2 separate regions of the Homo sapiens genome follow, and region 1 is linked to region 2. The links come from fine-mapping of genetic effects on gene expression. A gene starts in region 2. The other region holds a variant in brackets. All regions are shown on one strand. Distances are from middle to middle. Region 1 has its middle 19 kb from the start of CD27. Region 2 holds the start of VAMP1 (vesicle associated membrane protein 1).

What was found.
Region 1: its variant is fine-mapped to the expression of VAMP1 in whole blood (TOPMed, PIP above 0.99).

The regions. Positions count from the first base shown.
Region 1 is chr12:6,417,982-6,433,869 of GRCh38, reverse strand. No RefSeq gene overlaps it. Among named protein-coding and RNA genes, the nearest start is that of CD27, 19 kb to the left of the region's middle. RefSeq lists enhancers at 6,653-6,892, 6,933-7,042, 10,354-10,403. The variant C/G (reference allele first, on the strand shown) is at 8,087.
Region 2 is chr12:6,466,605-6,480,975 of GRCh38, reverse strand. VAMP1 (vesicle associated membrane protein 1) reads left to right here and starts at 10,299. Exons shown (of 5, transcript NM_014231.5): 1 at 10,299-10,446. The coding sequence starts at 10,445. It also overlaps a transcript of TAPBPL not described here and the pseudogene PKP2P1. RefSeq lists silencers at 9,748-10,007, 10,218-10,267, 10,768-10,817.

The DNA.
Region 1 (15,888 bases), 48 kb after region 2:
AAAAATTAGCCGGGCGTGGTGGCACATGCCTGTAGTCCCAGCTACTCTGGAGGCTGAGGCATAAGAATAGCTTGAACCTGAGAGGCGGAGGTTGCAATGAGCCGAGATCGCGCCACTGCAAAAGAAAGGAAGAAAAGAAAGGAGAAGGGAGGAAGGGAGGAAGGAAGGAAGGAAGGAAGGAAAAAGAAAGAGAAAGAAAGAAAGAAAGGAAGAAAGAAAGAAAGAGAAAGAAAGAAAGGAGGAAAAGAAGGGAGGGAAGGAGGGAGGAAGGAAGGAGAGAACGGTAGTTGGATAATAAATTGTTGTATATTCACCCAATGGAATGCTTTAGAGGAATGAATATGAACCACCTGCATGTAGCCATGTAGATTAATTTGCATGAATGTCAAAAATATAATATTGTACATCGTGAATGTACTTCATGCCCCCTGAATTATACATTTAAAAATAGTTTAAATGGTAAATTTTATGTATATTTTACCACAATATAAATAAATAAATAGATAGAAAAACATGTTAAGTGATAGTGCACAAACACACAGAAGCAAGGCATAGAAAAGTACATACGATTCCATTTATAAAGTTCAAAAACAGGCAAAATGAAGCAGTTTGCTGTTCAGGGTGCACACAGATGGTAGAACTAGAAAGGAAAGTGAGGAAGTGATAGACACAAGCCAGAGCTGCTTCCCCCGGTGAGGAGGGAAGGTGTGATCAGGGCGCTTCGAAGGTTCTACTAATCTTCTGATCTGAACGTGGGTTTTCAATGTGTTATTTTTATGTACTATTTTACATATCTTAGTTCACAATAAAAAGTACAAATTATATTTTAAAAATTGGAGGTGAAAATGAAAAAAAATGGAAAATTATAGAGAAGACTCAGGTTCCCTTTGATCAATCTCCTCCCCCAATCCCTGGTCCTCTCCCTACCTCCTTAGTGTAGGCACTGTTTTCAGATTATTGAGTATTCTTCCAGAACTTTCCTAGACAAAAAAGTTATGTGTGTTGTTGTGGGTGTTTTTTGTTTTTTGTTTTTGTTTTTGTTTTTTGACAGAGTCTCTGTTGCCAAGGCTGGAGTGCAGTGGCACATTCTCAGCTCACTGCAGTCTCCACCTCCTGGGTTCAAGTGATTCTCCTGCCTCAGCCACCCAAGCAGCTGGGACCACAGGTGTGCACACCCGGCTAATTTTTGTATTTTTAGTAGAGATGGGGTTTCACCATGTTGGCCAGGCTGGTCTTGAACTCCTGACCTCAATTGATCCAGCTGTCTCAGCCTCCCACAGTGCTGAGATTACAGGCATGAGCCACTGTGGTAGGCATATGTTTATGTTTTTAAAAATTATTTTCTTTCCTTCTTATTTTTTGAGGTGGAGTCTCGCTCTTGTTGTCCAGGCTGGAGTGCAATGGCATGATCTCGGCTCACTGCAACCTTCACCTCCTGGGTTCAAGCAATTCTCCCATCTCAGCCTCCCGAGTAGCTGAGATTATAGGCGCCCCCCACCACATCTGGCTAATTTTTATATTTTAGTAGACATAGGGTTTCACCATGTTGGTCAGGCTGGTCTTGAACTCCTGACCTCAGGTGATCCGCCCATCTCGGCCTCCTGAAGTGCTGGGATTATAGGCGTAAGCCACTATGCCCGGCCTGTTTGTTTGTTTGTTTGTTTTTGTTTTTGTTTTGAGACAGAGTCTCGCTCTGTCACCAGGTTGGAGTGCAATAGCATGATCTTGCCTCACCGCAACCTCCGCCTCCCAGGTTCAAGCGATTCTCCTGCATCAACCTCCCGAGTAGCTGGAATTACAGGTGCATGCCACCATGCCCAGCTAATTTTTGTATTTTTAGTAGAGATGGGGTTTTGCTATGTTGGCCAGGATGGTCTCGATCTCCTGACCTCGTGATCCACCTGCCTCAGCCTCCCAAAGTGCTGGGATTACAGGCGTGAGCCACCACGCCCGGCCAGCCTGTTTTAAAAAATTATTTTATTTTCTACTTAAAATGTTATTAAGCAATAATCAAATATTTCTTACTCTGATTTCTTGGCCCCACTCCTCCTGAGGATTCTCTGCTTGAATTTTTCAGAGCAAGGGCGACCCCTGTCTTAGGAGAGGTAGGAGAGTGCCTCATGGACAGCATCTGGTTGTTCCTTCTCCCTGGCAAGGGGCCTGCCTCTCTTTTTCATACCTGAGATGACCGACAGCAGTAACATCTGACTTTGTCTTTTCCTTTCTTATTTGGGGCATCGCAGGCTACCTATATTTGCTGAAGGAAATCTTACACAAAGCTGCGATAATTCTAGCACAGAGCAAGAAATAGAGCCTAAGGAACAAACCACCCATTTTCTCTCCACTCGGTAAAAAATTATCTCTGGGAAATGAAATAGCCCAAGTCTGGCAGTTCCATGTTCTTCTTCTTTTTGTGTTTTAGAGACAGCCTTGCTTACTCACCCAGGCTGGAGTGCAGTGGCACAATCATGGCTCACTGTAGCCTCGAATTCCTGGGCTCAAGAGATCTTTCTACCTCAGCCTCCAGAGTATCTAGGACCAGAGGTGCACACTACCACGCCTGACTGATTTTTAATTTTATGTAGAGACTGGGTCTCTTTATGTTTCTCAGGCTGGTCTCAAATTCCTGGCCTCAAGAAATCCTTCCACCCCAGCCTCTCAAAGTGCTGAGATTACAGGCATGAACCACTGCCCCTGGTCCATGTTCTTCTTATATTGCTTTTCTAAAGTACTTCTTTTTGCAGATAGAGAAAGGCTTGTTAACTGGCCTCATGACTCAGCCTGCCAGGCACAATTGTCCATCGGCCCCAGCACAGTTGTATTTTTGTGTTTGTTTTGTTCTTTCCATAAATGATATACAGTATGTATCCTACGATTTGCTTTTCGTGCTTTTAATCCAGTTATATGTCTTGGAGATCATTTCATTTTATACTTCTAGAACTACTCGTTTCGTTAAATAGAGAATGGATGTGCAGAGGCTTTTTAGCCATTCTCCTGGTTCCCGAATACTTAGGTTGTTCCCAACAATGCACTATCGTAAGTGGTGTTGCATAAACATCTCATACTTCGCTGTGCATGTGGGAGTGTCTCTCTAGAATAAGTGCGGGGCATCGGAATCGCTGAGTCACAGGGTGTGCACATTTTTCACTTTAACAGATGCTGGCGAGTTGCCCTCCAGAGTGGCCCTACCAATTCACACTCCCACCAGCAGTGGAATGATAGCACATATTTCCTCACGTCCTGCCAGGCTTTCGTATTAGCAAACTGTTTTTGAGCATCTCATTGGAGGAAAGTGCTGTCTCATTGTTTCAGTGTGCACTCTTCCCATTCCCGGGGAGGCTGAGCGTCTTTCCATGATCGCGCTGTTTGTGTTTCCTCTTTTGTGACCAAGGCCTTTTTACCCTTATGTCACCACCAGTGTTCTGAAGTCCACCCTTGGCTCTCCCCCACAGCAATCTTGTCCTCCAGACCCAACCTGCATTGCCTCTGCCAATCACAGGGGTGCCAAACATGGTATACACTTGCCATCTGCCCTGGGGGCTGAAAAAAGCCTCGTGGTGACAGGGGAGATCTCTGCTGTCCCTCCCTTACTAATGTCAGGGGACTTCAGACCTCCACAGAGGGTGTGTCCTTTACCTCACTTGTCACACGGCAGCTGGGACTTGCGTGACCCCTAAACTCCTTCTGCTTCAGCATTTGATGACCCCCCAAACTGCACTGACCTCCAGCCCAAACTGAAGGGATCCCTGGTGCCTGTTGACTTTTACTGAGATGAAATGAATCATTTTAATAATTTAAAAATGTACAATTCAGTGGCTAGACTTTTACTGAGATAAAATGAATCATTTTCATCATTTAAAAATGTGCAATTCAGTGCTTTTACTATATTCACAAAGATGTGCAAATATCACAGATACATTTCTATTTTTGAAAAAGTTATAACTACCCTAGTTGGTGTGAAGTGGTATCTTATTGTGGTTTTGATTTGTATTTCACTAAGACTAATGATGTTGAGAATCTTCTTATGTGCTCATCGCCATTTGTATATTTTCTTTGGAGAAATGTCTGTTCAAGTCCTTTGCCCGTGTTTAAATTAAATTATTTGTGTCTTTTGTTGCTGAGTTGCAAGAGTTTTTTTTTTTTTCTTTTTGATATTATGAATTCTAGACCTTACTAGATAAGTGATTTGAAAATATTTTCTCTGGCCCGGGGCGGGGGCTCACACCTGTAATTCCAGCACTTTGGGAGGCCGAGGCGGGCAGATCACGAGGTCAGGAGATCGAGACCATCCTGGCTAACACAGTGAAACCCCGTCTCTACTAAAAATTAAAAAAAAAAAAAAAAAAAATTTAGCCAGGCGTTGTGGCGGGCGCCTGTAGTCCCAGCTACTCGGGAGGCTGAGGCAGGAGCATGGTGTGGAACCCGGGAGGCAGAGTTTGCAGTGAGCCGAGATCGCACAACTGAACTCCAGCCTGGGCGATAGAGCGAGACTCCGTCTCAGAAAAAAAAAAAAAAAAATTTATCCCATACTGTGGGTTGTCTTTTTACCTTCTTAATAGTGCCCTTTGATGCATAAAAATTTCACATTTTGGGCCGGGCATGGTGGCTCATGCCTGTAATCCCAGCACTTTGGGAGGCCAAGGCGGGCGGATCACGAAGTCAGGAGATGGAGACCAGCCTGGCCAATATGCTGAAACCCCGTCTCTTAAAAATACAAAAAATTAGCCGGGCGTGGTGGCGGGCGCCTGTAGTCCCAGCTACTCGGGAGGCTGAGGCAGGAGAATGGCGTGAACCCAGGAGGCGGAGCTTGCAGTGAGCAGAGATCACGCCACTGCACTCCAGCCTGGGAGACAGAGCGAGACTCCGTCTCAAAAAAAAAAAAAAAAGTTTCACATTTTGATGAAGTCCAGTTTATCTACTGTTTCTTTTGTTGCCTGTGCTTTTGGCATCATATTTGAGAAACTGTTGCCGAATCCAAACTCATACAGATTTTCACTTATATTTCCCTCTAAGAGTTTTATAGTTTTAACTCTTAAATTTAGTTCTTTGATTTATTTTGAGTTAAATTTTTTATCTGGTTTTAGGTAGGGGTCCAACTTCATTCTTTTACTTGTGGATATGCAGTTGTCCTAGCACTGCTTCTTGAAAAGACTATTCTTTTCACACAGAATGGTCTTGGCACCCTTGCTGAAATTAATTGACAATAGATGTATGGGTTGATTTCTGGACTCTAAATTGTATTCCATTGATCTGTATGTCTGTCTTTAGGTCAATACCATGGTTTTGATTACTGTAGCTTTATAGTAAGTTTCGAAATTGGGACTTCAACTTCGTTCTTCTTTTTCAAAATTATTTTGGCTACTCTGTGTCCCTTGCATTTGCATGTGAATTTTAAGATCAGCTTGTCCATTTATGCAAAAAAGAAGGCAGTTAGAATTTCGATGGGGATTGCATAGAGTCTGTAGATGAAATTGGGAAATATTGTTACCTTCAGTCCATGAACACAGATGTCTTTCCATTTATTTAGGATTTCTTTAATGTCTTTCAACAATGTTTTCTAGTTTTCAGTGTATGAGTCTTGCACTTTCTTTGTTAAATGTATACCAAGTTTTTTTTTTTTTTTCTCGAGACAGAGTCTCACTCTGTTGTCCAGGCTGGAGTGCAGCGGCCCAATCTCAGCTCACTGCAGCCTCTGCTTCCCAGGTTCAAGCGATTCTGCAGCCTCAGCCTCCCGAGTAGCTGGGATTATAGGTGCCTGCCACCACGCCTGGCTAATTTTTTGTATTTTTAGTAGAGACAGGGTTTTATCATGTCGGCCAGTCTGGTCTCGAACTCTTGACCTCAGGTGATCCGCCTGCCTTGGCCTCCCAAAATGTGGGAATTACAGATGTGAGCCACCGCACCTGGCCAATGTATGCCTAAGTATTTATTCTTTTTGATGCTATTGTAAATTGAGTTGTTTTTCCTAATTTCATTTTTTTTTTTTTTTGAGATGGAGTTTCGCTCTTGTTGCCCAGGCTGGAGTGCAATGGCGCAGTCTCGGCTCATTGCAATCTCCACCTCCTGGGTTCAAGTGATTCTCCTGCCTCAGCCTCCTGAATAGCTGGGATTACAGGCATGCGCCACACATGCCCAGCTAATTTTGTGTTTTTAGTAGAGACTGGGTTTTACCATCATGGTTAGGCTGGTCTCAAACTCCTGACCTCAGGTGATCCCGCCTGCCTCGGCCTCCCAAAGTGCTAGGATTACAAGCATGAGCCACTGTGCCCGGCCCCTAATTTCAATTTCATTTTCTTTCTTTCTTTTTTTCTTCTTCTTTTTTTTTTTTTAGACAGTGTCTCGCTCTGTCACCCAGACTGAGTGGGGAGTGCAGTGGTGCAACCTCGGCTCACTGCAGCCTGCACTTCCCGGGTTCAAGTGATCCTCCCACTTCAGCCTCCCGAGTAGCTGGGACTACAGGTGCATGCCATCATGCCTGTCTACTTTTTGTATTTTTTTGAAGACATGTGGTTTTGCCATGTTGCCCAGGCTGGTCTGGAACTCCTGGGCTCAAGTGATCCACCCGCCTTGGACTCTCAAAATGATTACAGGTGTGAGCCACTGCGCCCAGCCCCGAATTTCATTTTCAAGTTGCTCTTTGCCCATGTAGCAGTTGACATTTGAAGAAGGCAGTTGTTTTCTCCAGAGTTGGAAGGTGGCACCTTGAGGTGTAGGCGTGTTGCTATGACACCCTGTGGGCCGTTGCTGGGGCTCTCTTGTGACTTTTCTGAAGTCACGGATGGAGAGTTTGACTCTGTGACACAAAGGGAAACATGTCTGACTAATCTTTCCCACACTCCCTTTGCCTCTGATGGCTCCCTCGGCTAGGAGAGGAGAGGAAGAGAGTGGGTTGGTGGGGCCTCACCCTTTATTACAGGTGCTTCCTCTGACCCTTCTCTTCTGCAGGATTTTTGGGGCAGCTACTGAAGGGACAGGCACTCCCAAAGGGCAAGGGCTGTGGCAGCCTTCTCTTTTACCCATAAGTTGGCCAGAATTGATGCTGTCTACTTGTTTTTTTTGTTTGTTTGTTTTGTTTTGTTTTTTGGGAGATGGAGCCTCCCTCTGTCACCCAGGCTGGAGTTCTCTCACCCAGGCTGGAGTGCAGTGGCGCGATCTTGGCTCACTGCAACTTCTGCCTCAGCCTTGGGTTCGGGTTCAAACAATTCTCATGCCTCAGCCTCCCAAGTAGCTGGGACCCCAGGCACACACCATCATCCCTGCTTAATTGTTTTGTATTTTTAGTAGAGATGGGGTTTCGCCGTGTTGGCCAGGCTGGTCTTGAACTCCTGGTCTCAAGTTATCTGCCCACCTCGGTCTTTCATTGTGCTAGGATTACAGGTGTGAGCCACCGCACCCGGCCTGATGCTCCCTACTTTGATGTGCATAGAGGAATGTTGCAGGCCACAGGCATAGGCAGGGTCCTGGTGGCTGGTGATGTCAGAGAAGCCTGGGGGGGAAGTCCAAGGATCAATCAGCTGGTGAAAATCTGAAGGAGCGGAGGATGATTCGAGTAAATCTGTGCTGCTTGGCCTGCGTCCAAGGCCGTCTCTCTGCTCAGTCACTTGCTGGCTGCCCAGTTGCTCAGGCTCCGTGGGTTTGTTTCCACTGTCACATGGGGATGCAGATGCTGGCCTCGGAGGGCGGGTGTGAGCAGCCATGTTTGGTAACTCGGGTGAATGCCCTGCTAGGACTTGATGCAGAAGAGGTGCCAGTCAGTGTTCACTGGAGTATGACTTGATCACCAGCAACTTCCTTCTTGACTGGGATAGGGCAACATGAGAGCTGAGAGTTCCTTAAGTGGGGCCGTGCTCAGAATGGAAGGGAAAGAGTGAAGAAATCTACTAGGAAGAGGTGTATGGGAGGCGTATGCGACAAATCTCACCTTTATGAGAGCTCAGCTAGTCAGTGGGAGCTTTAGGTTGAACGGTGTGGGTGCTTCTAGGGCTGAGGAGACCCCATCATATTTTCACGCCAAAGGAATGGGGTGGGCCGGATGGGGAGAGCTGCAAGAAGCAGGATGTTGCAAGTTTGTGTGGTTTGTTTGTTT[C/G]TTTTGTTTTGTGAGACAGGGTCTGGCTCTGTTGCCCAGGCTAGAGTGTAGTGGTGTGATCACGGCTCACTGTAGCCTCGAACTCCTCGCCTCAAGCAGTCCTCCCACCTCAGCCTCCCGAGTAGCTGGAACTACAGGCGCACGCCATGAAGCCCAGCTAGTTTTTGCATTTTTACTAGGGACAGGGTTTCACCAGGTTGTCCAGGCTGGTCTTGAACTCCTGGGCTCAAAGCGATCTGCCCGCCTCAGTCTTCCAAAGTGCTAGGATTACAGGCATGAGCCACCATGCCCGGCAATTATACATTTTAAATATTAATATAATAATGAGGCTAATCTATAATACTTCTATGTCAAATTGTTTAAAATTTTTTTAATTTTTTTTTCTGTAGTTTCATGCATTTCCTATTTAAGTATTAATATATGTCAGATTCTTTTAAGCATTACAAAAACTTTAAGTACCAAATGCATGCAGTGGTTAAAACCTGTTTGAAACTTAGCATGAGTTTGATTTGCTTCATCACTTTTGATTTTTATCAGTTAAGGTTTGACCAGAGAGTCAAAACCACTATGAGTGTTATGGAATAAGGAACTTATTTTAGAGATTAGACCTTAATCAATCATGGCAGCTGGGGAAGGAGTCTTTGGAGGCCTCCGTATCTGTGGTGGACCTGAGGTCACTATGGGTCAGTTGGGAGAAGCACTGGATGTGAAGTGGGGGCAGGGCAAAGGCCATCCGGAGCCTGCGTCTGTGCCTCACCACCACCCACCCCGATGGTATGGGTGTCTGCAGAAGGACCTAGCACTCCTTGCCACGGAGTTGCACTTGTGTGGCCAAGAATTAGAGAAGCTGAAGGAGGCGATCTGACGGGAGCTGGAAGAGCTGCCAGTCTGGCTGCCATCCGTGCAGACAAGGTGAGCCAGCAGATGACTGTCACCCCATGCTGGCCTCAGAGCACGACGGCCGCTCCTATTCTGTTTTCCTACCTCTCAAATCTTACATTTCTCTTGTGGCCAACCCTCACCCAGAACCATACAGGGATTAATTTCCAAGAAATATGGTTTCGTCTTAGCTAAGTTGAGAGGGTAAAAGCCATCATAAAGATTGATTCCAAACCTTCTTGGGGTTAAAAGAACACTCGTCCCCAAGGGGAACGGTTTTACTCAAGTGGGCAGTGTATGACCGTGATCTGTGATTACCGTCTCAGGAAGGCTAACCTTATTTATTTGCCAGATTTGAGGCTAGGAAGCCAGACTTGGGCCTGCGTACATCTATATAGTTCTCAGTTTAGTACAATGTTCCCTTAAATGTTTCAAACTACATTATAAATTTAATAGTTCTGAGTTTGTCTAAGTCTATACCCTTTTTAAAAATTAAAAAAATTTTTTCGCATTGACAACTAATCAAAAGAAGAGTCCATATGCTTCTGATGGGTTTAGATTTGCAACCTGCCTCCTGGGTCCAAATCGTACCCCCACTAGAGTATCTGGAAGTCTGGAATCTCCACCCTCAAGCTGCAGCCCTTCTTGGTGCCTCTTCCTTTTGGCCTGGCTACTGGATCCTTTCCTTATTCTTTCTGTCCGAGTAGGTCACCACTCCATAGCCATATGCATACCTCTGCAGGGCTCTGCTCACAACCCTGAAGTCATGCTCATGCCTGTGAGCACTGGACAGGATCCTGCACGGCCTCAGGAGGAACTCCAGGGAGTGGAGAACAGAAGCGCATGCCACGTTCACGCAGGGTCAGGATCTTACCCATCCAGGGCAGAGATTTTCCCCAGGGAGGAGGGATTACAGGTGCATATGCTGGCACCTGTAATCCCAGCTACTCAGGGTCACCTCTACGGGAGGGACTGAAGCCAGCAAGAACCATACACAAACTCTGTCCTAAAAGGAGCTGGTGAAGTCCCCTGGGGAAGGGGTAGAAGGGCCTTGGGGCCAGTTGCATAACTGGGACCTTCAAGCTGTGGCTCCCTGCCCAAGGAGCCTCTGCTATCCAGTCATGCGCTTGATTCCAATGGAGGCAGGAAGCGCGTCGTCCCATCTGTCTGGGCTTTGGGTGCCCTCTTGTGGCAGAATAGTGATTTCGCTCTTCACACTGTCTCACGTGGCCCTCTCAGGAGCCCAATTAGGGCTTCAAGGCTGTTATTTTGAAGATACGTTTATCGCAGCACTGTTTACAAGAGCAGGGATATGGAATCAACCTAGGGGCCCACCAATGGATGATTGTATAAAGAAAATGTGGCATATTTATACCATGGAATACTACTCAGCCATTAAAAAGAATGAAATTACATCTTTTGCAGCAATGTGGATGGAACCCTTAGAGGCCATTACCTTAAGTGAAATAATTCAGAGACAGAGTCAAATACTGCATGTTCTCATTTATAAGTGGGAGCTAAATAATGTGTGCACATGGACACAGAGAGTGCAATAGTAGACATTGGAGATTTGGAAAGGTGGGAGGGTGGGAGGTGGGTGAGGGATGAGAAATTTCCCAATGGGTACAATGTACACTATTCGGATCGTGGTTATACTAAAAGCCCAGACTCCACCACTACTCAATATATCCATGTAACAAAACTGCACTGTACTCCCTACATCTATAAAAAGAAAACAAAATGGGATTCTAACAGAAAAAAAAGGGACATAAGGGCAGAGGTGCCAGGCGTCGGGTATCCTCCCAGGGCTTCTCTTGTGTCAGCACAGCAGGCTGGGTTTCAGCAAGTTCAAAGAATTTGAGGAACCCCCTAAGGGAGGGCCACTGGTGGGGGCAGAGGGGTGATCCCAAGTACTCCTATCTGTGACTTGAAGAATCTATCTTTAACATAACCTAAAAGAATATACCAAAGGCTGGGCGTGGTGGCTCACGCCTGTAATCCCAATACTTTGGGAGGCTGAGGCTGGCGGATCACGAGGTCAAGAGATTGAGACCATCCTAGCCAACATGGTGAAACCCCATCTTTACTAAAAATACAAAAATTAGCTGGGCATGGTGGCAAGTGCCTATAGTCCCAGCTACTCGGGAGGCTGAGGCAGGAGAATCGCTTGAACCCGGAAGGCAGAGGTTGCAGTGAGCCGAGATTGCAGCACTGCACTCCAGCTTGGGTGATAGAGCGAGACTCCATCTCAAATAAAAAAAAAAAGAAAGAAAGAAAAAAAGAATGCACCAAAGTATGACCTGATCTTGTTTTCTTTTTAAAATTAAAATAGGGGCCGGGTGCGGTGGCTCACACCTGTAATCCCAGCACTTTGGGAGGCCGAGGCATGCGGATCACGAGGTCAGGAGATCGAGACCATCCTGGTCAACATGGTGAAACCTGTCTCTACTAAAAATACAAAAATTAGCTGGATGCGTTGGCACGTGCCTGTAATCCCAGCTACTTGGCAGGCTGAGGCAGGAGAATCGCTTAAACCCGGGAGGCAGAGGTTGCAGTGAGCTGAGATCATGGCATTGCACTCCAGCATGGGCAACAGAGCAAGAATCTGTCTCAAAATAAATAAATAAATAAATAAATAAAATTAAAAAATTAAAATAGGGACAGAGTCTTGCTATGTTGCCCATGCTGGTTCCAACTCCCCTGGCCTCAAGCAATCTTCCCACTTCAGCCTCCCAAAGTTCTAGGGTTACATGAGTGAGCCACCACGCCTGGTTATGATCTGAACATAAAAGCTCCTGTGGCTGGGTGCGGTGGCTCACGCCTGTATTCCCAGCACTTTGGGAGGCCAAGGTGAGTGGATTACCTGAGGTCAGGAGTTCAAGACCAGTCTGGCCAACATGGTGAAATCTTGTCTCTATTAAAAATTAGCTGGGCGTGGTGGCGGGCGCCTATAGTCCCAGCTACTCGGGAGGCTGAGGCAGGAGAATGGTGTGAACCCGGGAGGCGGAGTTTGCAGTGAGCCAAGATCACGCCACTGCACTCCAGCCTGAGCGACAGAGCGAGACTCCGTCTCAAAAAAAAAAAAAAAAAAAAAAAAAAAAAAAAAAATTAGCCAGGTGTAGTGGCAGGCGCCTGTGATTCCAGCTACTCGGGAGGCTGAGACAGGAGAATCGCTTGAACCTGGGAGGCAGAGGTTGCAGTGAGTCAAGATCGCGCCACCGCACTCCAGCCTGGGTGACAGAGTAAGACTCCATCTCAAAAAAAAGAAAGAAAGAAAGAAAGAAAGAAGGAAGGAAGGAAGGAAGGAGGGAAGGAAAATGCACATGCAGGCTGGGTGTGGTGGCTCACACCTGTAATCCCAGCACTTTGGGAGGCTGAGGCAGGCGGATCACTTGAGGCCATGAGTTCGAGACCAGCCTGGCCAACATGGCAAAAACCCATCTCTACTAAAAGTACAAAAATAAGCCGGGCATGGTGGCAAGCACCTGTAATCCCAGATACTGGGGAGGCTGAGGCAGGAGAATCGCTTGAACCCAGGAGGCAGAGGTTGCGGTGAGCAGAGATCACACCACTGCACTCCAGCCTGGGCGACAGAGCAAGACTCCATCTCAAACAAACAAACAAACAAACAACAACAACAAAAAAAATAGTGCACGCATGCATACGATATTGTGAATAGAATTTTAAGGAGTTTGTGAACTTTGGGGATGCATGAGCCCATATGGTTTGTAAAAGTTCCACTTCTAGATCTCTGGTCCTATTAGTTTCTCAGGGGCTTGAAGCCCTCAAACAGAATTGCTACTCTCTGAGGAGGTTGACAATGTCCACTTAAGGACAGCCTCTCTGGAGAGGAAGAAAGGACACAGGGTAAAATTTCTTCTCATCAGAGAAGTAACGTTAGCGTTAGCCTCAAAGATGCGTAAAGAGTTGCCTTGTGTCAAGAAACAGACGTTTCTTTTTTGAAAATATCCGAGAAAGACAAATAACAGAGATGGGTAATTTACATAATTTCAAGACAGAGATTGTCTCCAAATTGCCTAATTTGAGGAATCTGAATGAGATGAAAGACAAGACACTCTTTGGAAGGATTTCCTAAAGCAATTCTTCTTAAACTCTATTTTTGGCTGATCTCAGATGGTCTCTGAAAGTTTCCAGAGGCAAGGCAAAACATTTAAGAGCTTCCAAAAACTCATACCAAACTGCTTCTAGAAGAAAACTCAAACAAATTGATTCATGTTCTTTCAAGACACACCTTTAAAGGGATTTTCTTTTGGTGGGTATTGCTTATTTACTTAACTAATATTTACTTAATGCATACTGGAAAAGAGTATTTTAGAGTTGGCAGGAACTTCAGGCATCTTGTTCTGATTCCTTTATTCTCAGACAAGCAACATGAAAGCTAGAGAGGAAAACTGTCCCTCATTCTTTCAACAAGTTTATCAATCACTTCCTATGTGTTAGGAACTGGGCTTTGTATAAGAAATAAAAGAGGGCCGGGCGCAGTGGCCCACGCCTGTAATCCCAGCACTTTGGGAGGCCGAGGCAGGCGGATCACAAGGTCAGGAGTTGGAGACCAGCCTGACCAACACGGTGAAACCCCGTCTCTACTAAAAATACAAACATTAGCCGGGCGTGGTGGTGCATGCCTGTAATCCCAGCTACTCAGGAGACTGAGGCAGGAGAATCCCTTGAACCCGGGAGACGGAGGTTGCAGTGAGCCGAGATTGCGCCACTGCACTCCAGCCTGGGCAACAGAGTGAGACTGTCTCAAAAAAAAAAAAAAAAAAAAGGAAAAGAAATAAAAGATGAAAATACATTGAGGATAATCTCATGAGGTAAGGAGATATGTAGGGGAAACCACAATTCCTTTTTTTTTTTTTTTTTTGAGATGGGGGTCTCATTCTGTCACCAAGGCTGGAGAGCAGTGGCAAGATCTTGGCTCACTGCATCCTCTGCCTCTTGGGCTCAAGCGATCCTCCCACTTCAGCCTTCTGAGTAGCTGGGACCAAGTGCACCACCACGCCTGGCTAATTTTTTGTATTTTTGGTAGAGATGGCGTTCTGCCATGTTGCCCAGGCTGGTCTCGAACTCCTGGGCTCAAGTGATCTGCCCGTCCCAACCTCCCAAAGTGCTGGGATCACAAGCATGAGCCACGCACCTGGCCAAAAGCCACGATTCGAAAAAGATAATTGTTTTAATGGAGGCTGTTTAAAAAGCAGTGGAAGCTTAGCAGAGAAACCAGCGAAACCTGTGAGGGTATCTGAAGATGACTTCACGGAGGCGGTAGCAGCTGAGCTGTGGCTTGATGGATGAGGAGGGGTTTGCTGGGTGGACCAGCGTGTTTGCTCCAGGCTATGTTGAAATAGTATGCAGGTTGGTCAGGGCAGTATGGTGCCAGTCAAGGGATGAGTGGGGTCTGGAATCTAGCCTCACGAGGGGGATGTGGCACCTTTTCCTAATTTCCACAAAGGCACAATATGGGCTACCAGTCTTGAGAAGTGGGTGAGGGCATGCAAATGTAAAAAAGTAAGGTGTGTTCTGGGATCTACTAGTTCTTGAGAAGCACAAGTTCAGAACTGCTGAAGAACAGAGTGAGAGGTGATGAGTTTGCCCAGGTAATGGGGCCAGGTCATGAGAGGCTTTTCTATGACCGTGTGTAGTGGGCAGGTTGGGAATGGAACCTGGATGCCTTCCTTCCTGGCCGTTACTCTTCCTGTAGCACCAACTGCCCCTGGCCTGGACGCTGAGCTCTGTGCTGGGTGCTGGGCAGGATGCGGGGATGAATATGCATAGGCCTTGCCCTCAGGGGTTTATAACTAGGGGTTTATAATATGCAAGACCCATGGATTAATAGTGATAATAAAGTAGAATGTGATAAGTAGCCAAATAGAGGGACAAGGAGGAGTACTGGGCACACGCACAGTACCCGGAAGTGGTGGGCTCAAGGCCACACGCCATAAGCCAGGAATTCAAGGTCAGGTCTGTCTAGCCTCAAAGCCAACGTTCTCATAGGTTTCAAAGGCTTTAAAAGTGCTCACACTCTTTGACTTAGCATTTCCACTTCTAGGAGTCTATCCTAAGGAAATAAAATGTGTGCAAAGATTTAGTTACAAGGATGGTCTGTGAATTATTTTTCTTTTTTTTTTTTTTGAGACAGTCTCACTTTGTTACCCAGGCTTGAGTGCAGTAGCGTGATCTCAGCTCACTGCAAATTCTGCCTCCCAGGCTCAAGGGATCCTCCTGCCTCAGCTCCTTACAGGGATCCTAAGGGATCCCTGCCTTACAGGTGTCTGCCACTATGCCCAGCTAATTTTTTGTATTTTTAGTAGAGATGGGGTTTCACCATGTTGGCCAGGCTGGTCTTGAACTCCTGACCTCCAGTGATCTGCCTGCCTTGGCCTCCCAAAGTGCTGGGGTTATAGGCTTGAGCCACCACGCCCAGCCGTGGCTTATTTTTATCTAACTTCTTTTGCCCAACATAATGTTTTGAGATTCAGCCATGTCATTGTGTGTACCTGTGTGTTACTACAGCGGAATATAGTAGGTCACTATTGTATGAATAGACCACAATTAATTTATCCAGTCACCTGTTGATGGACATTTGGGTTGTTTCCAGTTTTTGACTATTATAAATAAAATCTGCTGTGAACATTCTTATACAAGTATTTTGGATATTTGTTTTTCTGTCTCTTGGATAAATACCTAGGAGTAGAATAGCTTGGTCATAGAGTAAGTGTATATTTAGCTTTATAAGCAATCCTAAAGAGTTTTCCAAAGTAGCTGTAACATTTTAAACTTGCTGCGGTGTTATGATGTATATTGGATATCATCCACGGTTCCTGGCTCATAACCCCAAAAGCCCCTGTTACAGTCTTTTGTTATAATGTTGGGTGCGTTGGGCCTCAGGGGCAGGCCTCTGACCT
Region 2 (14,371 bases):
AGTGTTTGGGGGAAGGTTAAACTTTATAATCACAGTTGCCTTTCTCTGGGGAAAAGATTTATTTTTATTTTTATTTATTTTACTTTAAGTTTTGGGAGAAAAAGGTTTCTTTAATTTGCTATGATCACTTCCTCTCAATTTCTTTTTCTTACAGTCATGCATACTCTGTAATCTAAATTTCTTAAGTTTATTTAAAAATCAGAGGAAAAAAACCTAAGGAGATAAAAACGAGCACAAAGTAAACAAAGAAACAAATAATTTTGCCATTATACTTTCTCCTGGATAACTGCAGATATTTCTTGTCATTTCCATTCTGTTTCAACACTACAGAACAATATACTCATGGCCCAATGGTGAAGCAATGTGCACATGAGTGACAAAACATGGGAACTAGAAAAGGAATATAAATGTAAATCAAGCTTTTAAAATCCCAGTAATGCAACAACTTCTTTCCTTATTTATTGGATCAAAGTCCATTCCACATGAATTCACATTTTGGTTCCAGGAGGCCATGCACCATAAGCCCTAATAACAAAGACCACTATTTGTAGAGCCTGTGACCAGTATCTACTGGTGGCAAGCTTGCAAAAGTCTTCTGGAAGACTCATAAGATTATGTTGTACTTGTTTTCTGGATTCGGGGGACCATGGAAATAGAAAATGATAGAAACGAGGCATGCTTTTGAGGTTTCTTGGGCTGGGTAGTAGAAAAATAGGTGTTTTCCTGTGGGATTTTTTTGCAGCTGAGAATACTTCGTCATTTTCCTCAGTCTTTAAGGGAGTGGTAGGCTTTGACAGTCCAGCTGTTGACAAAATCTGTCTTCTTAAACTGAGCCTTCTTGTAGGCATGATGGAGTTCCGTGTGTGCCTACAGAGAATACAGGAGGATGGAAGCAGCTTTACTTGCTTTGTTGGAGGCATAGGCATCGCCTGCACTGATGGTCATAATTTTCTGGATGCCCCCGGTATTCGGAAGGCGCTGTGCATTCTGGTAACTGTTTTGGATTACGTTGTTCAACATGTAACAGGCAGAGGCTGTAGTTTCAATGAGAAGGTCAGTACTCGGGACTGTATCAGGAATGATGGAGACCAAACTGGGGAGAGTTTCTTTGGCAATTTTATTCTGCAGAGAAAGATTCTGGGACAGATTCCTCAGCAGCAAGTTGGCTGTCTTTTTCACACTTGGGTCACTGACATGCACCATCTTTCGGGTGTGCTGCAGGCCATTTTCCTTCTGGACGACTGTCTGAGCCACTGATGTCGGCATTGGTCCACTTCCGGCTGTGAGGTTCTGGAGAGCGCCTAAGGAGGCTTCCTGTGTGTAGTTTGGGACACTCTTGGCGATCAAGGACAGATACATCCTTATCACAATGGAGTGTCACAGCCACTCCACGCCCTTGGGGTTGCTCTTTTCCTCTGGCATCGGCATGTCCTAGTATTGCTCTTTTAGTTTCCTGCTTCGACTGCCAAAACATCCAATACTTTTGTTGTTAGTCTGGACATTTGGGTTTTGAATATAGATATTCTGGGAATATTTCTCTGGGAGCTCTACCTCCAGCTGGTAGGAGAGGTTATGAAGAATGTGCACACAATTCTCCGTGGCCTTGTCATCTGGCTGGTAATCCGCAATGGTTCCTCTGACATAATGGACCAGTGAGTCAATGAGTCGGTCACATCTTCTCATTGCTTTTCTCCTATCAGGGCCAGCAGCACTCATGTTTCTTAGACATCCAGTGGGTTGTAGACTGTGTCAAAATCGAGCAAACCATTCGCTTTTGGGTAGTCTCCTTCAGGCCATCCAGAAAAGGAGATGATTATATTCTCGGTCAGCATAAGCAATGCTTCTGTTATCATGAGATTCTTGAGTTTGTCATTAGATGACAAATTCCACAGCAAACCTGTTAGTTGTTTTTTAGTCTCCAAGACTCTGGTTTGCTTCAGCACCTGGAGCAGCCGAGTTACCCCATTTAGTTCAGCCACCTCCAATTTGTTGTCATTGTCTTCAAATAGTAAGTTTCTCAAGGCCCCCCACACAGCTCGCTGAACATCTTCATTCTGAACTTTTAGGAGCTGCAGAAGCTTGGGGATGCCACAAAACTGGTTAACCCTCTTCCCAGCTTCAGATTTCTGGAAGCACTCGTGCTGTATGAAAGTGGCTGCGGCAGAAATCCTGGACGGCGGCATCTGGTCTGCATCGAGCATACTCCCTGCTCGCTCCAGAGTCATCTCCATGTCTGCATTCCCCAGCTGGGAGTCAGTGCTTCTCTGGGTGAGAAGATTCCCACTTCCCCCTGCCGCTGCCTGGCCGACGGTCAAGTGCGCTCTCCTCCCGCTGGAATCCACGGCAACACTGGGCCCAGCTTTCCTCGGTGTGCGGGTGCTGTGGAAGGAGCTCCGGTGCCAGGAGGACCTGGAAGCCCTGTTCTGAGTGAGGGGCCGCAGGGGCACCAGCGGCCTGACCTGGCCGACGGTGAGCCCTGCCCTCAGGTAGTTCTCTTTCTCCAAGAGGTTGCCCATGCTGCGGCTGGTCCCTGGCCTGGGGTACGTGAGCAGGGCCGGGTTGGCAGGGATGCTGTCAAAAACGGTGTCACTAACAGAGCCACGCTGGTACTGCCTGTGGTGTCAAAGTGGTGCTGCCTGCTTGTGGTGCCAGTACGGCGGACCCCCGCGATCTCAGAACGATCATATCTCGGTGGCACCAGGAAGGCGGCCCGCCTGCTTTCTTGGTGGTGCAGGGTGTGCCCAGCCTGGCTTCTCTGGCTGTACTGGTAATCGCTGTGCGTGTAGTGAGCCCTCTCCGGGCTGCTGTCAGGAGAAATCTCCAGTCTCCTCAGAGGATGCCTCAAATACCTTTCTTCCACGGACTTCTGGGAGCTGTACTGTGCTGTTCCTCTTCCCCAGCGACCTTCATAAGTGGCAGTTGTGCCAGCCTTTAGCATGTAATAGGTTTTAGGAACAGGGGAACGGCCTCCAACAAAATCATTTTCAACCAAGTGTAGGTTGTAGACATACTCAGGAACACTGCTGGTTCGGTGAAGATTTCCGTTGCCCACGGAGCTGCGGCCCTTCCGGGCGAGGATCTGCTGCACCTGCTCCTGGATCCGCAGGCTCTTGACTGGCTGCCGCGGCCGCTGCTCCCAGCCAGCTTCAGCTTGGCCTCAGAGGGCAGCGCCAGGCTGGAGCTGTCCAGTTGTCCCAGGATCTGCTGGCCCAAGATGGTCCGGATGTAGCCGTACTCAGCTGGGGCCCCGGGGGCTGCCATGGGGCCGGTGGGGGCGACCCAGCCGCTCGCTTGCCTTGGGACTCGCGGGTGAAGCCGCCGCAGAGCTGGGGGCTCTCCAGATAGGAATCTTAAAAAATACAGAAGGCCAGGCATGGTGGTTCACGCCTGTAATCCCAGCACTTTGGGAGGCCAAGGCAGTCGAATCACGAGGTCAAGAGATCCAGACTATCCTGGCCAACACGGTGAAACCCCGTCTCTACTAAAAATACAAAAAATTAGCTGGGCGTGGTGGCGCACGCCTGTAGTCCCAGCTACTTGGTCGGCTGAGGCAGGAGAATCGCTTGAACCTGGGAGGCAGAGGTTGCAGTGAGCCGAGATTGCATGACTGCACTCCAGCCTGGCGACAGAGCAAGACTCTGTCTCAAAAAAAAAAAAAAAAAAATCAGATGCGCATATTTGTAGGGGTCTATTTCTGCATTCTCTCATCGGTGCCATCGATCTATGTGTCTGTCCTCCCACCAATACCACACTGTCTTGATTACTGCAACTATATAGTAGTAAGCATGAGATAGTTATTCCTCCTATTTTATTCTTCTTTGTTCTTCTATAGATAAAATCTATTTATGAGTTGGCCTGAGAGTAAAGACTATTTAAACACGAAAAACTAAGTGAAAGCCAGTAACCAGGGAAGTTGCTGAGTCCCAAAGACTATTTTGCTCTGAGGGTATTTGCTATAAAGTTTAATATGAGCGTAGCAGCCTCACAGGCTACCACTGTGGCACAGGAAATAAAGCCCAGGGCTTACCCAAGGTTGGAAATCTAATAGAAAGTCCTTACCATAAAGTCAGAACCCCAAAGGACTATATCCTCATCTAAGAATGAATTACGAATATACTAGAACCCAAACTGCCCCAGAGCACTCCGTGGAATGTTGTTTGTCTGGAACCCAGGTGCCTGCTGGAGTTCTTTTATTTTTTTCTTTTAAGTATTTGCAGAGAATGTATAACCACAGGCTGTGGTGTTTCTGCCTGAACTCTTTGTTGATCCTAAAAAGAAAATGGCAAGAATTTAAAGTGGTTTTGGATTGACAGTACCACCAAGAACCCAGCAGAAGCAATGCAGATCCTTTCTGGATGAACTCATCTTTAATCTAGGCCTCGGGGAATTTCCACAGATACAGTTCCAAGAAAAATAAATTGTGGTCAAAAATTCCAAACAAATAAGGAACAAGGCACCAAGAACAAGAACCAGCAGAGATGGAGACAGGAAATAAGAAAGATAATTAGAAAATTAAGCCAAATAGTCCAATATCTAATTAATAGTCCGATGTCTAAAAAGAGAAAACAGGATATGTGAGGGAGAGGGAGAAAAAAGGGTGTGTGTGAGATTGATTTTAAAAGAAATACAAGACTCGCGCCTGTAATCCCGCACTTTGGGAGGCTGAGGCTGGCAGATCATCTGAGGTCAGGAGTTCGAGATCAGCCTGGCCAATATGGTGAAACCCCGTCTCTACTAAAAATACAAAAATTAGCCAGGCATGGTGGCAGGCGCCCGTAGTACCAGCTACTCAGAAGGCCTCGCGAGGTGCCGGGATTGCAGACCAAGTCTTGTTCACTCAGTGCTCAATGTTGCCCAGGCTGGAGTGCAGTGGCATGATCTCGGCTAGCTACAACCTCCACCTCCCAGCCGCCTGCCTTGGCCTCCCAAAGTGCCGAGATTGCAGCCTCTGCCCAGCCGCCACCCCGTCTGGGAAGTGAGGAGCGTCTCCGCCTGGCCGCCCATCGTCTGGGATGTGAGGAGCCCCTCTGCCCGGCTGCCCAGTCTGGGAAGTGAGGAGCACCTCTTCCCGGCCGCCATCCCGTCTAGGAAGTGAGGAGCGTCTCTGCCCGGCCGCCCATCGTCTGAGATTTGGGGAGCGCCTCTGCCTGGCCGTGACCCCGTCTAGGAGGTGAGGAGCGTCTCTGCCTGGCTGCCCCGTCTGAGAAGTGAGGAGCCCCTCCGCCCGGCAGCTGCCCCATCTGAGAAGTGAGGAGCCCCTCCGCCCGGCAGCCACCCTGTCTGAGAAGTGAGGAGCGTCTCCGCCTGGCCGCCCATCATCTGGGATGTGAGGAGCCCCTCTGCCCGGCTGCCCAGTCTGGGAAGTGAGGAGCACCTCTTCCCGGCCGCCATCCCGTCTAGGAAGTGAGGAGCGTCTCTGCCCGGCCGCCCATCGTCTGAGATGTGGGGAGCGCCTCTGCCCGCCCGTGACCCCGTCTAGGAGGTGAGGAGCGTCTCTGCCTGGCAGCCACCCCGTCCGGGAGGGAGGTGGGGGGTCAGCCCCCGCCCGGCCAGCCGCCCCGTCCGGGAGGGAGGTGGGGGTCGCCTCTGCCCGGCCACCCCTTCTGGGAAGTGAGGAGCCCCTCTACCCGGCCACCACCCCGTCTGGGAGGTGTACCCAACAACTCATTGAGAACGGGCCATTATGACGATGGCGGTTTTGTGGAATAGAAAAGGGGGAAAGGTGGGGAAAAGATAGAGAAATCAGATTGTTGCTGTGTCTGTGTAGAAAGAAGTAGACTTGGGAGACTTCATTTTGTTCTGTACTGGGAGGGGTTCTTCTGCCTTGGGATGCTGTTGAGCTGTGACCTTGCCCCCAGCCCTGTGCTCTCTGCGGCCTGTGCTGTGTCCACTCAGGGTTAAATGGATTAAGGGCGGTGCAAGATGTGCTTTGTTAAACAGATGCTTGAAGGCAGCATGCTCCTTAAGAGTCATCACCACTTCCTAATCTCAAGTACCCAGGGACACAAACACTGCGGAAGGCCGCAGGGTCCTCTGCCTAGGAAAACCAGAGACCTTTGTTCACTTGTTTATCTGCTGACCTTCCCTCCACTATTGTCCTATGACCCTGCCAAATTCCCCTCTGCGAGAAACACCCAAGAATGATCAATAAAAAAAAAAAGAAAATGGCCAAAAGACATGAACCAACATTTCATCAAATAGGATAATATATACAAGGCAAACACTTTAAAAGATATTTGATATCATTAGCCATCAGTGAAATAAGAATTAAAACCACAATGATAGCACTGAACACATATTAGAATGGTTAAAATAAGAAAAATACAGCTGGGCATGATGCCTATAGTCCTAGCTACTTGGGAAGCTGAAGTGGGAGAATTGCTTGAGCTCAGGAGTTTAAGACCAGCCTGGGCAACACAGGCAAAGGCAGTTTCTTATAAAACTAGAGATGCAATTACCTTACTGCCCAAGCATTGCACTCAGGCATTTATCCCAGAGAAATGAGAATTTATGTTCACACAAAACCTGTATGAAAGTTCACAGCAACTTTATTTGTAATAGCCCAGTGCTGAAATCACTCCAAATGTCCTTCAGCAGGTAAATGGTTAAATGTACCACGGAATATTAATCAGTGGTGAAAACTAATGATACACACAATAACTTGGATGGTTGAAAAAGTAATGATACACACAATAACTTGGATGAATGAAAAAAGCCAATCTTGAAAGGTTACGTGATATAGAAAAAAGCATGACTACATTTACATAAGGCTCTTGAAATAAAGTTACAGAGATGGAGAACAAATTAGTGTTGCTAAGGTTTAGGGATGGCGGTGGGTTGGAATATAAAGGGGTAGCACATGGGAGCCTTGCAGTAATGTGAAAATGCTGTATCCTAACTGTGGTTGTGGTTACACAAATCTACACATGATACAATTGCATAAAACCACTCAAACACACACGAACACAAAAAGAAGTGTTTGGTGGTACATGCCAGTTTGGAAAATCGGTGAAATTTGAATAAACTCTGGATTTTGCTAATGATAATTTCCTGGTTTTAATATTTTAATAATTTTAAACTGTATTTATACAAGATGTTACTGTTGGGGGAACTGGGTAAAGGGGTTTAGGGGAACCTCCCTGTATTGTATTTTTTTTTTTTGGCCACCTTATATGAATCTATAATTACTTTAAAATAAAAAGTTTAAGGCCGGGCGCGGTGGCTCACGCCTGTAATCCCAGCACTTTGGGAAGCCGAGGCGGGTGGATCATGAGGTCAGGAGATCGAGACCATCCTGGCTAACACTGTGAAACCCTGTCTCTACTAAAAATACAAAAAATTAGCCGGGCGTGGTGGCGGGTGCCTGTAGTCCCAGCTACTCAGGAGGCTGAGGCAGGAGAATGGCGTGAACCCAGGAGGTGGGGCTTGCAGTGAACCGAGATAGCGCCACTGCACTCCAGCGTGGGCGACAGAGGGAGACTCCGTCTCAAAAAAAAAAAAAAAAAGTTTAAAAAATGCCACCCCCTCAACCCCGTTTTTTTGAGACAGGGTCTCACTCTGTTGCCCAGGTTGGAGTGCAATGGTGTGATCATGGCTCACTGCTTTCTTGACCTCCTCAGGCTCAGGTAATCCTCCCACCTCAGCCTCCCAAGTAGTTGGAACTACAGGTGTGTGCCACAATACCCAGCTATATTTTTTTGTATCTATTTCTTGTAGAGACAGGATTTCACCATGTTGTCCAGGCTAGTCTTGAACTCCTGGGCTCAAGTGATCCTCCTGCTTTGGCCTCCCAAAATGCTGGGATTATAGGCGTGAGTCACCATTCAATGATTTTAAGTTTTTTTTCAGGGGAAAGTTGGTGGGAATAAATAGGCATTCATGCTGCCAGAAATATTTCCTCCCATTCTTTTTTCTTTTCTTTTTCTTTCTTTCTTTCTTTTTTTTTTTTTTTTTGAGACAGTCTCATTCTGTTGCCCAGGTTGGAGTGCAGTGGCAAGATCTCGGCTTACTGCAGCCTCCGCCTCCCGGGTTCAAGTGATCCTCCTGCCTCAGTCTCCCGAGTAGCTGGGACTACAGGCGTCCATGCCCAGCTAATTTTTGTATTTTTAGTAGAGACGGGATTTTGCTGCGTTAGCCAGGTTGGTCTTGAACTCCTGGCTTCAAGTGATCCGCCCTCCTTGGCCTCCCACATTGCTGGGATTACAGGTGTGAGTTACTGCGCCTGGCCCTTTTTCTTTTCTTTTGGAGATAGGGTCTCATTTTGTCACCCAGGTGGGAGTGCAGTGGCGTGATCTCGGCTCACTGCAACCGGAACATCTGGGCTCAAGCTGTCCTTCCGCCTCAGCCCCCCAAATAGCTGGGACTACGGGAGTGAGCCACCACGCCCGGCCCCATTCTTTTTGTCTTTGGGGGCTTATAATTTTTTGCAAATTTTCCCAAATTGTCATTTTTCCCCCTAACTTGCCATTTTGATGTGGTTTCAGGAGGAGAATGGGATAAACACATATGATGAATGCATTATGTTTCCAAGTGCAATTGTTTCCTTAAGAAGACTTGTGACATTTGGATAGATAACTTTGGTGGACTTTTTAGAGAATAGATGTAAAGGATGGCAAGACTGGAAGCAGAATGATGTATCATTGATCTTAGGAGGCACTTGGGTTTTTTGTGTGTGCTTGTTTGTTTGTTTTTTTGCATTTCAATATCTTCTAATTGGGATGTTTCACTTTAGCTATTAGTCAGACAGCAGTCAAACTATATTTGTCATACCTGCTCATGAGCATCAAAGCTTGCCAAATGGGTGTCTGAGGCTTGGAAGAAAACTCTAGAGCCTGGAGAGGAACACTCTTAGGAAATGCTGCATCACCAAAGCCCTTATGAAATGCACAGAGGACTACATTGCGTGGAAATTAGTGGACATCCAAGACTGAGTCAAAAAAGTGAATCATTAACAATCAGTCTCTGTGAAGTTTTAGGGATAGTTACCATGTTATTGTTTTCTATTTCCCTTTTTATGCATGCACAAGAGTGAAATATAGAAATCGGTATGTATATAAACCCATATTTTCAATACATGTAAAACAAAAATGCTAAGTGGTAAGGAAAGCATTTGTCACAGATAATTTGCAACCTTTTTTCTTTTTTTTTTTGAAACAGGGTCTTGCTCTGTTGCCCAGGCTGGAGTGCAGTGGCGTGATCTCGGCTCACTGCAACCGTCGGCTCCCGGCTTCAAGCGATTCTCTTATCTCAGCCTCACGAGTAGCTGGGATTACAGGCGCCCGCCACCATGCCTGGCTGTTTTGTATTTTTAGTAGAGACAGAGGTTTCGCCATGTTGGCCAGGCTGGTCTCGAACTCCTGATCTCAGGTAATCTGCCTGACTCGGCCTCCCAAAGTGCTGGGATTACAGGTGTGAGCCACTGCGCCCGGCCTTGTAACCTTTTTTCTTAGCGGGACATAAAATAATGGTGAATTTTCCAACTGATGGAGTCCAGGAAAGGGATAATAGTGAGCAGAGGGGAGATAATCACTGGAATGCCAAGAAGGAAAAATCAACTCGATTTGGCAGATTACTGGGGGAGAGGTAAAGGTGAAGGGGAGGAAATCTAGGATGGTTTCCACGTTTCTGGTCTGGGCAACTGAGTCGATGTGGTAACCTCGACTGGAGCAGGTTTGGGAGGGAGTTCAATTTAGGAAGGCTATGTTGAAAGAAACGAATGAACGAAAGCTTCGTGCTTGCTTTGGTGGGACGGAACCCCGCATCCGGTATCTGGCACCAGGAGCTTGTGGCTGTGTCTCGAGGCTCCTGCACCCTCTCAGAGCGTTAGTTAGAGGCGGGGCGGTGGTGCGGAGCGAGGGCCAGAGCAGGGCACCAGGGCTGGGCGCGCACCAGGAAGCCGCCGCCTCCAGCTGAATGCGCGAGTCCCGGCGCGGGGTGGGGCAGGGGCGGGCACGGTCTTCAGTAACTGCCTAGCGATTGGTTGGGAGGCACCACAAATGCCTAACAAACTGCTGAAGCGCCCTCCGAAGGGACAGACCTCATCTCCACCCCGCCCCGTCCCTCCGCCAGACTGGAGCGCAAACTATGGTCGCATTGATCACTGAAGGATCCTCACAGCAACCGCTCCTTTCCGGAGTCGGATGAGAGGAGAGTTGTGACTGGCAATTGGCAGGGGCGGGGCGGGCTAGGCCTGTAGCGCTGGGCGACCGTCCTGGGCATGGATTGGGCCGCGGGGTTGTCACCGTTATCCGGGAGGCGTGGTCAGCACTAATAAAGGCGGAGGCCGGCGCGGCAGCTGCAGTAAGTTCCAGCGCAGCTAGACCGCGGGGTAGTCGGCGCGAGGCGGAGCTTGGCAGTTCCGTCCACTTCAGCCGCAGCGTCCCTCACCGGGTGTCTCGCCGCAGCCTCCGGAGAGGAACAGACCCTCACTCTCTCTGTCAGAAAAATGTGAGTTGACTCTGGTGTGGGGGCTCGGCACCTCCTTGACAACTCTCGCCCCAAGCTCCCGATTCTGCGGGACGGAAAATGGCGCAATGCAGCAGCTGCAGCAACGCGGGGAACTACCACCGCGCGCCGCTTCCGGACCGGGCCACCCCCAGGGAGGGGGGCCAGCACCCCATTCTCGCACCAGCCACAGCTAGCACCCCACGGGCGGGGCAGGGGCGCAGGGGTCCCACAATCATTGCACCCTCTCCTCTCGTCTGAGTGGCGCCTCATTCTGGTTTTGGTATAGTGGAGACTCGGAGAGGGCGGGGGCTGGGGGTGGTGGATGGAGACAACTGGGCAGGGGACTCGAAAGGTATTTCTGTCATCTGGCTAAATCACTACTCAGCGCCTCAGGAAAGACAGTCATGGGTGCAACTGCCAGTTGGTAACTTATGTTGCCCTACAATCTCTGGATTTGTTTACCCCTCACCCAAAGTGTGATGTCTAGCCCCCCTCATGGCAGTGAGCAAAGCTGCAGAAACTTATCTGCCAGTTCTCTGGCACCAGGTGAGCAGCTCAGAAAGACTCAAGGGGTAGTGGGATAGTGGCCTGTCATCCCAAGCGGCTGTTCATACCAAGGCCATTCGTATAGGAGATGTTTTTCTATCACCGAGTCTTACCAAATAGTTGGAGGAGAAATAGGGAGAGCTGAGCTTTCCCCCTTTCCTCCAACACACACAGTTTAGTCTCCAGCAGTCTTCAACATCACCCCCTTCGCATGATCTTGAGGGAAAACTACGGCTAAACAAACGAAGTACTTCTCTGTCAAGACCTCAATATGTCTAATACAGATTTTTCTTTCTGATTACTACCCTGGCCTGGTCCTAGATGTATTTATGTTGCTTCTCTAAGTGACAAAAAAGGGAAAGATTTACTTGTGTTACATAAGGGTTGTAATTATCCCTAGATATTTTACTGTTGAGTGTTTCCAACTCCCAACAAGTAGTAAGTGAAATTGGCCTTGCAAATACTTCATAGCCATTTCACTTTTTCTTTTTGATTTCTATGGTTTTAACCAGATATGAGTGTTCTATGCATTTTGGGCAAGCCGTAGAATTCCAGTTGTTTTCATTTTGGGGAGGGGGCTTCCAGATAGTATCTACGTGGGATGAACAGAAGGCAACAGAAAAATCGTGGTGGCTAGCGGGGCATCACGAGGTCTCTGACCTTAATCTTGTCATTGGTGCTACCATCCTGGACTGCTTCCAACACTGGCTGCTACCTACTCATTGAATTTTCTGCCTTAAGTCGAGAGCTAGATTGCTTAGCTAGCTCAGTGGCAGGACAAGAGTCTTGTGGCTCCCATGACTTTGTGTCTATCTTTGCTTTACCTCCTTTGCACCTTAGAGGGAAATGGAAAAGTGATTCTTCAAATGGGGAATGAGTCAGGTGTAATCTGCTACCATAGCCTCTCTGAGGAGTTATTCTCTATCTTTTTAGACTAAAAGAAATTCACTTAATCAAGGAGAATGAGCTTCTGGGTATTAGTTCTATTGTAATTAGTCAAATAATTTCCTTTTAGGTGACTTTGTGGTTTCATTTTTGTTGCATTTACTCTTGGACTGCTCCTGTGAAGTATGTTTGGTGAGATTCTGCTTCTGTTTGAGGAGTTCTTACTGTAATTTCTATTCTCCATCAAATTTGAGAGATCTCCCCCCTGCCTGTGGGTGCTTCCTTGGCCGAGAACATCTCATGACTTAGGTTATACTTCTGGGAATTCTTTAGGAGGTGAGTTTAGCCTCCATGTTTTGGGACATGGAGAGGAGTTTGTCTTGAAGACCACACACTAACTTTGAGTGGTACAGAATGAGAGAACATTCTCTGTGTGTATAGTACAGTAAACCAAGATCTCTCTTTGGGATGTAAGTAACCAAGGGAGTCATCTGAGACTGTCAAATCCAGAAAAGGAAGGGACAGAATGTCTATAATGCATGCACATTGAGGACAATTTCTAGCATTTTTGCTTCCTGTCTATGCTCTTGGAACAGTTTCCATAACTAATGTAATTGCTTTGGGCCCCAGATTCTATCTAAGTGAAACCCCCATTTTCTCTGCCAAAAACAAAGCAAACAAACAGTCCTGACTCACTCCACCTACATAGACTTTGCCTTTGGTGATTTTCCAAGCTGCCCTTATGGCAGCCCTGATTTCCTCATCTTGTGTGAAGCATAACCAATAACTGGGCATATAAACCAATAACCATAACCAATAACTTGAATATAAAAAGGGGTGAGCTGACAGACATTACAGTGTACAGCCTCCCTCCTGGCTCCCTTCACGGACTGGCATTGAGTGTCTGTGGCTTTTCCAGGCGCACGGTGCAAGCTACCAGTGGATCTACCATTCTGGGGTCTGGAGAATGGTGACCTTTTTCTCATAGCTCCACTAGGCAGTGTTCCAGTGGGGACTCTGTGTGGGGGCTCCAACCCCACATGTCCCTTCTGTACTACACTAGCAGAGGTTCTCCATGAGGGCCCTGCCCTTGCAGCAAACTTTTGCCTGGACATCCAGGCGTTTCCATACATCTTCTGAAGTCTAGACGGAGGTTCCCGAACCTCAGTTCTTGCCTTCTGTGCATCTGCAGGCTCAACACCATGTGGAAGCTGCCAAGGCTTGGGGCTTCCACCCTCTGAAGCCACGGCCCGAGCCCTGCATTGGCCCCTCTCAGCCACAGTGGGAGCGGCTGGGACACAGGGCACTAAGTCCCTAGGCTGCACACAGCATGGGGACCCTGGGCCTGGCCCACAAAATAACTTTTTCCTCCTGGGCCTCCAGGCCTGTGATGGGAGGGGCTGCTATGAAGGCTTCTGACATGGCCTGGAGACATTTTCCCCATGGTCTTAGGGGCTAACACTAGGTTCCTTGCTACTTATGCAAATTTCTGCAGCTGCCTTGAATTTCTTCTCAAAAAAATGGTTTTTTTCTTTAGTACTGCGTCTTTTCTTCTGCCAGATACCCTAAATTATCTCTCTCAAGTTCAAAGTTCCACAAATTTCTAGGGCAGGGGCAAAATGCTGCCAGTCTTTTTGCCAAAACATAACAAGAGTCACCTTTGCTTCAGTTCCCAACAAGTTCCTCATCTCCATCTGAGACCACCTCAGCCTGGACCTTATTGTTCATATCACTAACAGCATTTTTGTCAAAGCCATTCAACAAGTCTCTAGGAGGTTCCAAACTTTCCCGCATTTTCCTGTCTTCTTCTGAGCCCTCCAAACTGTTCCATCCTCTCCCTGTTAACCCAGTTCCAAAGTCGCTTCCACATTTTTGGGTATCTTTTCAGCAACACCCCACTCTACTGGTACCAATTTACTGTATTAGTCTGTTTTCATGCTGCTGATAAAGACATACCCAAGACTGGGAAGAAAAAGAGGTTTAATTGGACTTACAGTTCCACATGGCTGGGAAGGCCTCAGAATCATGGCGGCAGGTGAAAGGCACTTCTTACATGGCAGCAGCAAGAGAAAATGTGGAAGAAGCAAAAGCAGAAACCACTGATAAACCCATCAGATCTCATGAGACTTCGTCACTATCACCAGAATAGCACCGGAAAGATGGGCCCCATGATTCAGTTACCTCCCCTGAGTCCCTCCCACAACATGTGGGAATTCTGGGTGATACAATTGAAGTTGAGATTTGGGTGGGGACACAGCCAAACCATATCAGCGGGGAAATGCCATTTAGGACAAGGCTAGGCCATATGTCCCTGTAGCCATCATGGCAGAGGACTTGTTTGAGTTGAGTCAAAGGATAGCCCCAGATGAGATGTCTTGATGCCATCCTGGATGTCCCTGAACCCCATCCAAATGTTGTTGCAGAGTCTTTCATCTTTTACTTCTTGCCTCTATGGTTTGTCTCCCTACTTCAGATTGCCAAGGAGCAAGAATCC